Homo sapiens: one gene and its partner. The protein of the gene in region 2 purifies or fractionates together with the protein of the main gene of each other region. This does not show direct contact. Each region holds a gene or a part of one and is shown on either strand. Other genes may lie near its edges.

Region 1 (7,041 bases), on a different chromosome or scaffold from region 2:
CTAAGAAAGCTAATTTAACTTCTTCTTTTCCAATTTGGATGCCCTTTATTTATTTTTCCTGCCTATTTGCCCTGGCCTCTAAACCTCTGTTTTGGAAAAAGGCTTTCATGTAATCTAGCCAGTTATGTATTTTTTGTTCTATTTGTGTTCTTTATTTGAGCAAAACTGTAATAATTTATTATTTTCAGATTTACTCAGGCAACCTTAAAAAAATTAAAATGCCTAAGCCATCCATGCAGAAATTTTTATTAGCTACTCTTCAAATTACTTGTAAGTGTTGCTGTGTACAAAGGTAGAAAACAACTCTGACTAAATTTTATTTCTTCCAATATTAAGATATTCCTTTACTTAGCTTACAGAAAATTCTCATAGAAAACCTTTGCTGGAGAGCAGAAGTATGGCAGCTCATTGATTAAAAAACCACAATCAAGGCCAGGGTGCGGTGGCTCATGCCTGTAATCTCAGCACTTTGGGAGGCTAAGGTGGGCAAATCACTTGAGGCTAGGAGTTTGAGACCAGCCTGGCCAACATGGCGAAACCTCGACTCTACTAAAAATACAAAAATTAGCCAGGCATGATGGTGCATGCCCATAATCCCTGCTGTGTGGGAGGCTGAGGCACAAGAATCACTTGAACCCAGGAGGCAGGGGTTGCAGTGAGCTGAGATTGCACCACTGCACCCCAGCCTGAGCAACAGAGTAAGACTCTGTCTCAAAAAAACAAACAGAAACAAAAACACACTTTCTTTCTTTTTAATACTGTAAATTTGGCAGAAAACTTGCTGAGTAAGTCTCTTTTAAAACTGCCTTTTAAACTCTCTTTTAAACTTTTATTTTTATTTTATTTCCCTTTTTTTAGAGGAAGGTTCTCACTATGTTGCCTAGGCTAGTCTTGAACACCTGGCCTCAAGCGATCCTCCTGTCTTGGCCTCCCATAGTGTTGGGATTATAGGTGTGAGCCACTGCACCCAGCCAGAAATGCCATTTTTATCACTACCCAAGGACCTCCATTGCTCTCTGGAGGCCTGTTGCATTCTCAGCCACCTTTAAGTTTCACTTAGTTTCATGACTTAATGCCATCCGACATCACTCAAATGATCAAACTTTATTTTACTTTTCAATGTAAGTCTCAGGCCCTCTTGGATATTTTTACTAATTGACAAGGATAGTAACTGGCTTCAACAAAGTCTTCTAACTTGTGAAATGCTTGCAAATTACAGGATAATCTCTTTTCTGAGTAGCCCAGTGTTATCTGGTATTTAGCATGCCTGCTTAACTGCCTGATGAGGCATTACTGTAGATTATTGCTCAGAAAAAAAATAGGCAAAACAAAGTTAGCAGTATGAAAAAATAGACGTGTATACTCTTTGATCCCAGATTTATCCTTAGGAAGTAATCGAGGATGTACTGTCCATACTAGTGAAAAAAAAATTGCCAACAACATAAATGTTCAATAATATAATTTTTTAAAAAAATTATGGTACATCAATATAATGGAATTCAATTAAACTTTATAAATGGTGTTGGAGAAAACTACTTATTGATATAAAAAAGCAAAGCATTTATTCAGTGAAAAAACATGTAACAAAATTATGTACAATATGATCCCATTTTGTTAGGAAAAAATAACTATCTAAAAGTATACTGGCTGGGCATGGTGGCTCACGGCTGTAATCCCAGCACTTTGGGAAGCCAAGGCGGGTGGATCACCTGAGGTCAAGAGTTCAAGACCAGCCTGGCCAACAGGGCAAAACCTCATCTCTACTAAAAATACAAAAATTAGCCGGGAACGGTGGCATGAGACCTGTAATCCCAGCTACTCGGGAGGCTGAGGCAGAAGAATCGCTTGAACCCAGGAGGTGGAGGTTGTAGTGAGCTGAGATCATGCCACTGTTCTCCAGCCTGGGTGACACAGCGAGACTTAGTCTCAAAAATAAATAAGTAAATAAATAAATAAATAAATAAATAAATAAATAAAGTATATAAATGCTTACAAAATATTGAAGGTTAAGACATCAAAAAATGGCAGGGCACAGTGGTTCATGCCTGTAATCCCAACAATTTAGGAGGCCAAGGCAGGTGGATTACCTTAGGTCAGGAGTTCAAGACCAGCCTGGCCAACATGGTGAAATCCCATCTCTACTAAAAACACAAAAATTAGCTGGGCATGGTGGCGCACACCTATAATCCCAGCTACTCGGGAGGCTGAGGTAGGAAAATTGCTTGAACCCGGGAGGCAGAGGTTGCAGTGAGCCAAGATCGTGCCATCGTACTCCAGCCTGGGCAACAAGAGTGAAACTCCAGCTCAAAAATAAAAAGACATAAAAAATTAACAGTGATTATATCTCAGTGTTGGAATCACATGCACTGTAATTTTCTTCCTGAAGTTGCTTCTACTTTCAAATTTTTTCTTCCTTTTTTTAACAAAAGTTATGTTATCCTTCTTAATGAGATTTTTAAATGTTACCAAAAATTACATCTATTTTTTAATGTTAAGTAATGTGGAGTCCTGAACAATATTTTCTTTCTTTTTTTAAAACATACATCTTCTTTCCCATTTCTGCTTTGCTCATGCCCACACATTGTGTTGGGAATATCTTCCTTAAATTTAACTTATTGATCTCAAATTGTATTATTTAATCCTCTTCATTGAAATATAATTTAGTTGTAAGCTCTGACAGAAATAAGGTGACATAAAAAAAAGAAAAGAAAAGGAAAGAAAAGAAAAGAAAAGAAAAGCTTTACCTGGATATCAGTTAATTTGCTCAAGATGCGGCTTGCCAGCTTAGGACCATTCTCCATAGTTGGAATGTGTATTGTCTACAAAAGAAAGGGAAATGAGATAATTTGAGGGTACTCATGTATATGGTGATAACAGATAAGACACTCAAGCAATTCTGCTATACTAAGGCAATTCCACTGAAGTTAAGGAATAGCACTAAAACCTACTGACTCTGAGTGCTAGCACCTTATGCCAAAGACTTTCATATCCAAAATTTGAATAAAAACTAGCCAATGACAGGTTATACATTGCCTACCTACCAATTAATTTTAGGGCATAACTGGTTTGTATACCAGCCTTCAGGATCATTTGAAGAACCAAGGAGGAGCTACAGTTACCTAAAATAGTGGCTAAACTTAAAGAACCCTACCTCTTCCAAGATTCTGAGAATCTGTAAGGATGAATGATTGTCTTCTACATATTAACCCTCTGGCTAATATGAGAACTCAAAGATATTTTGCCACAGTTTAATGCAAGTCATTCTGGGAGCATAAATTAAAGCAAGTCTATGACTTCATAAAAGGGGCTTCTATACCTATCTCTGGCCCAAGGTAAACTTCCAGGGGCCACTACCTCCACAATATTGGATAGCATGATTAAATGCATGGCTGAAAGAGATTTCATGCTTCTAATTTGTATCTGAGTCATGCCTACTCATGCCTTGCTGGCTTGCAGGTTTTGATAGTTTGATTTTAGGAGATAGTCTGTGCTCTCAAACACTTTTCATATTATACCCTTTAGTATAATATGATAATTATATATACTTACTTTTTGGCTGTAAATGCTTCCTAAGCCTGGATCATTAAAATTATGCTAAACTTTATAAACTTCTTATTTCTAGAAGTGAAATAATAATTCAACTTAAAAAAAATCTGGCCTAATGACAACTTCAGTGGATGGATCACATTACCTTGATGCATTCTTATCAATGTAAGTATTGACATGAAACAGAACAATTCTTCTCCCATGAAACAGTCTATCTGTTGATGCAATTATGTCAAGAGCAATCCCTTAAAAGCAAGTTCTAAAACCTCAACAAATGAAGCAGCCATTATTAAAGTCAGAGGAGTTGAGCAAAACTCCAATCAGCTGAGGGAAAATAACTCTAAAGTAAAATTTGAAAACCAGTGGAGTTTGCATTTACGGTTGACACTTGAACAACACGGGTTTGAACTACACAAGTTCACTTATACGTGGACTTTCTTCTGCCTCTGCCACTCCTAAAACAGCAAGACCAATCCCTCCTCCTCCTCCTCCTCCTCAGCCTACTCAACATGATGGACAATGAGGATGAAGACCTTTATGATGATCCACTTCCATGTAATGAATAGTAAATATATTTTCCCTTCCCCATGATTTTCGTAACTTACTTTATTGTAAGAATACATATATAACATACATAACATACAAAATATGTGCCAATCGACTGTTTTTGTTGTTGATAAGGCTTCCGGTGAACAGCAGGCTACTAGTAGTTAAGTTTTTGGGAAGTCAAAAGTTATATGTGGGCCGGGCATGGTGACTCACGCCTGTAATACCAGCACTTTGGGAGGTCAAGGCAGGTGAATCACTTGAACTCAAGAGTTTGAGACCAGCCTGTGAAACATCTTGAAACCCCGTCTCTACAAAAAATACTAAAATTAGCTGGGTGTGGTGGTGCACACCTGTGGTCCCAGCTACTTGGGAGACTGAGGTGAGAGGATCGCTTGAGCTTGGGAGGCGGAGGTTGCAGTGAGCCGAGATTGTGCCCCTGCACTCCAGTACAGGTGACAGAGAAAGACCCCGTTTAAAAAAACAAACAAACAAAAAAAGTTGTATGTGGATTTTTCAACTGCATGGGGGTTGACACCCCTAATCCCTGTGTTGTTCAAGGATCTGCTATAATATGAATAACTTAAGCCAGTTCACATTATAAGACTAATACTTACATGCCTTTAAGTTATAAAGTTAGATGCCAATGTTAATCATAAGTATTGGAGCTTTGTTATAAAGTGAAAAGCAAAACAATTTGACAAGAAAACAAAAGTATGGCACATATAAAATCAGACTAATTTACTAAGAGGAGAACATTTCTTCCAACCAAATCCTCAAATTCCTTTTGTAAGATTTTAGTAAATGCACCAGGTTTGCCAATGAATAATTCTTGTAAAGTGGTCTACTTACTATTAATGATAACAGCATTAATAGTAAAAAAAAATCAAGGGATTGACCACTCGAATGCATTTTCCATAACTATTTGCCATTCCTAATCCAGTGGTTTGGAAGTACTTTTGGTTAACCAGAAACTGAAATGTAACTACCTATAGAGCCTTCCCTAGTGAGCTGGTAGGAAGGAAGAGAGAAGAGTAGAAGACTGTCGGCATAGCTCCAATCCCGACATGTAGGTAAGACAGATCTTACACGTGTCCAAGGACAAAACTAACTTCCCACCATGTTTAAGCTTACATGAAATCACTGGAAACATAGTAGATATATGCTAATACAGTTTCATCTGGATAAACTGTCCCAGTTATTTTTTTTGTAGTGCCAAGTTAAAAAACAAAAACAACAACAAAAAAGACCTAGCATGGTGCGGTGGCGCACTCCTGTAATCCCAGCAACTCAGGAGGCTGAAGCAGAAGGATTGCGTGAGCCCAGGAGTTTGAGGCTGCAGTGAGCTATGATCACACCAGTGAATAGCCACTGCACTCCAGCCTGGGCAACACAGCGAGACTCCATCTCTTTAAAATAAAGAAAAACAACAACAACGACAAAACTTTTGCATCTTGGGTCTGGGTCCAGATACAATTTTATTCATACACTTAAATTAAATGTAATTTAATGTGATTGGAAATGATAGGAAATGAGGAAATACTTGTCGTACCTCGCCTTTGTACAGTATATCAGAAACTGGGCAAACAACACAGGCTGTACCAGAGCCAAACATCTCTCTCACTCTGTTCCCCTCCAGGGCTGTTGTCAAGTCATCCATGGTGAGGTATCTCTCTGACACCTTAAATTCACCCTGCATGGAATATAAAAAATAACAAGTATATTTTAAAGGAAAAGGCATGCAAAACAATTGCAATACTTACTGTTCTGCTTAACATTCTGATTGCACTTAGACAAGGTCACAATCATCCTTTAAGGGAAAGCTGGAAGTGGCACACCATCTTACTGGTGAACACATCGAGGTGTTAAGTAACCTACTTCAAGGTCACAGATTTATATATGAGATTATCAGAATATAAAATATAAGATTATCACCACAAGACACATGGTATACTTTAACATATGCCTTCTTTTTTGCCTTCTTATTTGTTAACTTGTATAAAGTCTCACAAAATTGATGCATCCCAAATGCTGCTTGATGCATGCTCCGTGTTAACAGTGTCTTAGGCCGGGCACGGTGGCTCATGCCTGTAATCTCTGCATTTGGGGAGGCTGAGGCAGGCAGATTACTTGAGGTCAGGAGTTTGAGACCAGCCTGGCCAACCTGGTAAAACCCTGTCTCTACTAAAAATACAAAAATTAGCCAGGCATGGTGGCGGGTGCCTGTAATCCCAGCTACTCAGGAGGCTGAGGCAGGAGAATCGCTTGAACTCAGGAGGCAGAGGTTGCAGTGAACCAAGATCACGTCACTGCAGTCCAGCCTGGGTGACGGAGTGAGACTCTGTCTCCAAAAACAAAACAAAACAAAAAAATCAGTGTCTTAAAACCTACTTTACCATAAAGGAGAACAATGTATTATATAATATTAATAATTATAGCTACCATTTATCAAGCACCCGCTATTATGCCAAGTTCTGTAATTTTAAGGGTGAGTACTATCATCCCCATTTTACAGATGAGGAAACTAAGGTTCAAGGAGGTTGAAGGGCATCTCCAGGGCCACAAAGGAAGTAAGTGACAGAAACTCAATTTGAACCCAGGTCTGATCTGATTGGCTCCAAATTTGGTACTCTTTCTACGTTTGTCTCTTTCTTTTTTTTTTTTTTTTAAGACAGGGTCTTGCCCTGTCACCCAGGCTGGAATGCAGTGGCATAATCTTGGCTCATTGCAGCCTCGACCTCCCAGGCCCAAGTGATCCTCCTGTCTCAGTCTCCTGAGCACCTGGGACTACAGGTGTATGCTGCCATGCCCAACTAGGTTTTATATTTTATATTTTATTTTGTAAAGATAGGGGTCTCCCTATGTTGCCCAGGCTGGGCTCATGTGATCCTCCCACCTCAGCCTCCCAAAGTGCCAAAGTGCTGGGATTATAGTTGTGAGCCACTGTGC
Region 2 (2,717 bases):
CTTATTTTGTTGTTGTTGTTTTTGTGTTCTGTTTTGTTTTAGGCTTTCAGCAGCCTGAAGCCATGGTTTTTAGTTTCTGTCTCTAGTGATAAGCAGAAAAGAGGGATGAGGAAGGGGCTTCACTGGCCCAACCAGAAACAGAAACTAAGAACCCATGACTGCTGCAGGACTGGGCACAGTGATCAGGTCCTACTGCCCTCTGAGACCAAGCAAGTCACTCTGTCTCTCTGAACCTCAGATTCCCCATCTGCAAAAGCCTTCCCCTTGCAAGGCTGTTGTGAGGAGCAGAGATAATGCACACGCACTACCTGCGCCGGTTAGTGCTCAATTACATCTATCTATTATTATAAAGAGATGGTTCTCAAACGTTCAGATGCATGAGAAATGCTGGGAATGCAAATTACTAGGCCCCATTCCCAGAGATTCTGATTGGGAGGTCTAGGGTGGGGCCTGGGAATATCTATAGCTCACAATTTTGTCCAGGTTAAATGATGCCCACTGAGGAACAATCTTTTAAGGAAAATACACCTGGGGCCACTGACCGCAGAAAGTCTTTATTCCTGAGTTAAAATCAGGTTCTAGAACTACAGCCCGTCCCCCAGGGCAGCCAATGCTAGTAGGGCAGATGGAAACCTCTGGTGGAGGCAGCCACAGAGTTCACGGCTCGGGCCTGTGACCCACGATCTCATCCTAGCCCTTTCGACAGGTACGGGTGATCCACTCATGCTCGTCATCATCTGCAAGGAAAGAGGAAGAGCTGGTCATGCTTGGTGCTCGCTGGGACCTTTCCTGGCCTGGGGGGTTCCCCAGGTGGGGCGTTGGGACTGGGATGGTCCGTCGATGGCCAGTCTGTGTAGTTTTGTGTGGGGAGGAACAGACCTTTCATTTACACTGAATTCCTCGGAGTGGCTGGTCTTGGGGAAATTGAACACAGAAGGGTTTCTAACTGTGGGTGCTGCTGGCGGAGGCAAGCATGAGGAGTCTGGCCACCCTAAGCTGGACTCATCCTGACAGGCAGAGAGCAGCTGCTTCACAGTCGGGCACTTGCCTGGTCTGACAGCCCACGCACGACAGCCCCAGGACAGTGGGTCTAGGCCTTGCCGGTGGTGCTAGGAGACAGAGTCCTGAGATCTTCATTTCCTTTCTAGGCTCTCCATTCTTGACCCTTTCAAGAACCCATGGTTTCTCCAGGGGACTAACACCCTCTTGTTTACTCCAGGCCTTTCAGTGGGGAACGGAGAGGGGCAGGAGCTCGCCGCTGTGCCTGAAAGCCCTAAACGCAGTGTCTCCTTAGTTTAATCTTCGTGACCAACCACGCAATGGGCAAGCCTTCACCACCGTTTTACAGATGAACAAACAGAGGCTCACAGAGGCCGAGGCACTTGTCCACAGCCACAGGGTCAGTATGTGGGAGAGCTCAGACTAGAACCTAGGATTGTCCAGCTATAAAGCCTGTGCTGTTTTTTAAACCTCAAATAAAGAGACTTGAGTGAATCACATTCAGTCCACAGCACGCTGCCATCATCTCTCTGTGCAAGACCCCTCCGTGGATTTACTTTATTTTCATTTTTCCTCCTTTCTCCTCCAAACCCATACCGGGCCCCTCCTCCACCACTGCAGGGACCTACACCAATGGTGGGATAGAGACCCCTCAAAATGCATGTTGCTCTGTAAAATATGTGCTGTTGTTTTGTGTACAAATGTGTTTTTAATTTACAGAAATGGCATTGTGCTGTGGCTTTCATTATGTCTCACAGCTTTCACTCAAGATCTATTCTTGTTGCTGTGTGTACATCCAGCTCTTTGCTTCTTACTGTTGCCTAATATTCCATGCTTGGCTTCCGTCACATTTTCCTCTCCATGCCGGTGGTGGACGCGGAGGTTGCCTGCAACTCCCACTACCAGGAACAATGCTGGGACAAGCGTTCTTGGCCACACTCCTTCACAGATACGTGGAGAATGTCTCTGGGGTTACGTTCCTTCCAGGAGGAGGGTCAACGAGTCCTGCTCATCCTTCCTGCACCGTCCTTCCAGCTGCCCATGCTTTTTTCACACCACGCTGCCTTCTCCCTGCCTTCCTGCCTCTCCACCTTCCTGCCACTCCTCCCTTCCCTTGGTGCCACTCCCTGCCTTTAACCAGTTCTCCTGAGGGCCAGAGTACTGGAGGAGTTCTTGCCTCCTCTCCTTACCCTGTGTCTAGCCCAGTGCCTCCTGCCTAAGAGATGGGAGGATGGGTGTGTCCACCCTCCTTGGGTGACAAATGGCAGATGCTTGGGAACAAGGGCACTCCCTGAGAGCTGAAATACAGAGGGCTGGCGGAAAGCTTGCCTGAATCAGATCCCCTGCCAGGGATGCCTTCCTTTTGTGTGAAAGGCACCAGACCCAGGGGCAGAGAGATGGAGGCTCACAGACAGCCTATGTGTGCTTGGTGCTTTGCAGACACTGTGTCTCATTGGATCTTTGTAACAGCCCAGTCAGGTAGGGGAGAGCCTTGTCCTAAGTCCATCGCCAGTGGATTCCAACCAAGGTTCACCAGGCTCTGCAGCCTGACCTCTCACCCCAGGGCAGATGTGAGCACGCCAGGAGCTGAGGCTGCCTCCACATCACTAACCACCTGCCCACCATTTCTTTACATGAGACCTAAGGAAAACGGCTTGCTGCCTGGCACACTCTGGCAAGCAGCCAGTGAGCCTCAGTTTCCTCTGGGGAGGCTGCCT

The links. The genes of interacting proteins can lie anywhere in the genome.
Region 1: the proteins of MORN5 (region 2) and BCAT1 purify together in Homo sapiens (affinity purification with mass spectrometry; 2 studies listed by BioGRID and IntAct, with this or other methods). This does not show direct contact.

The regions. Positions count from the first base shown.
Region 1 is NC_000012.12:24,827,079-24,834,119, forward strand, and holds part of BCAT1 (branched-chain-amino-acid aminotransferase, cytosolic), read right to left. Parts: intron 5,786-7,041; coding exon 5,645-5,785; intron 3,712-5,644; exon of another isoform or gene 3,623-3,711; intron 2,820-3,622; coding exon 2,745-2,819; intron 1-2,744.
Region 2 is NC_000009.12:122,197,905-122,200,621, reverse strand, and holds the end of MORN5 (MORN repeat-containing protein 5), read right to left. Parts: intron 738-2,717; coding exon 691-737; 3' UTR 539-690; downstream 1-538.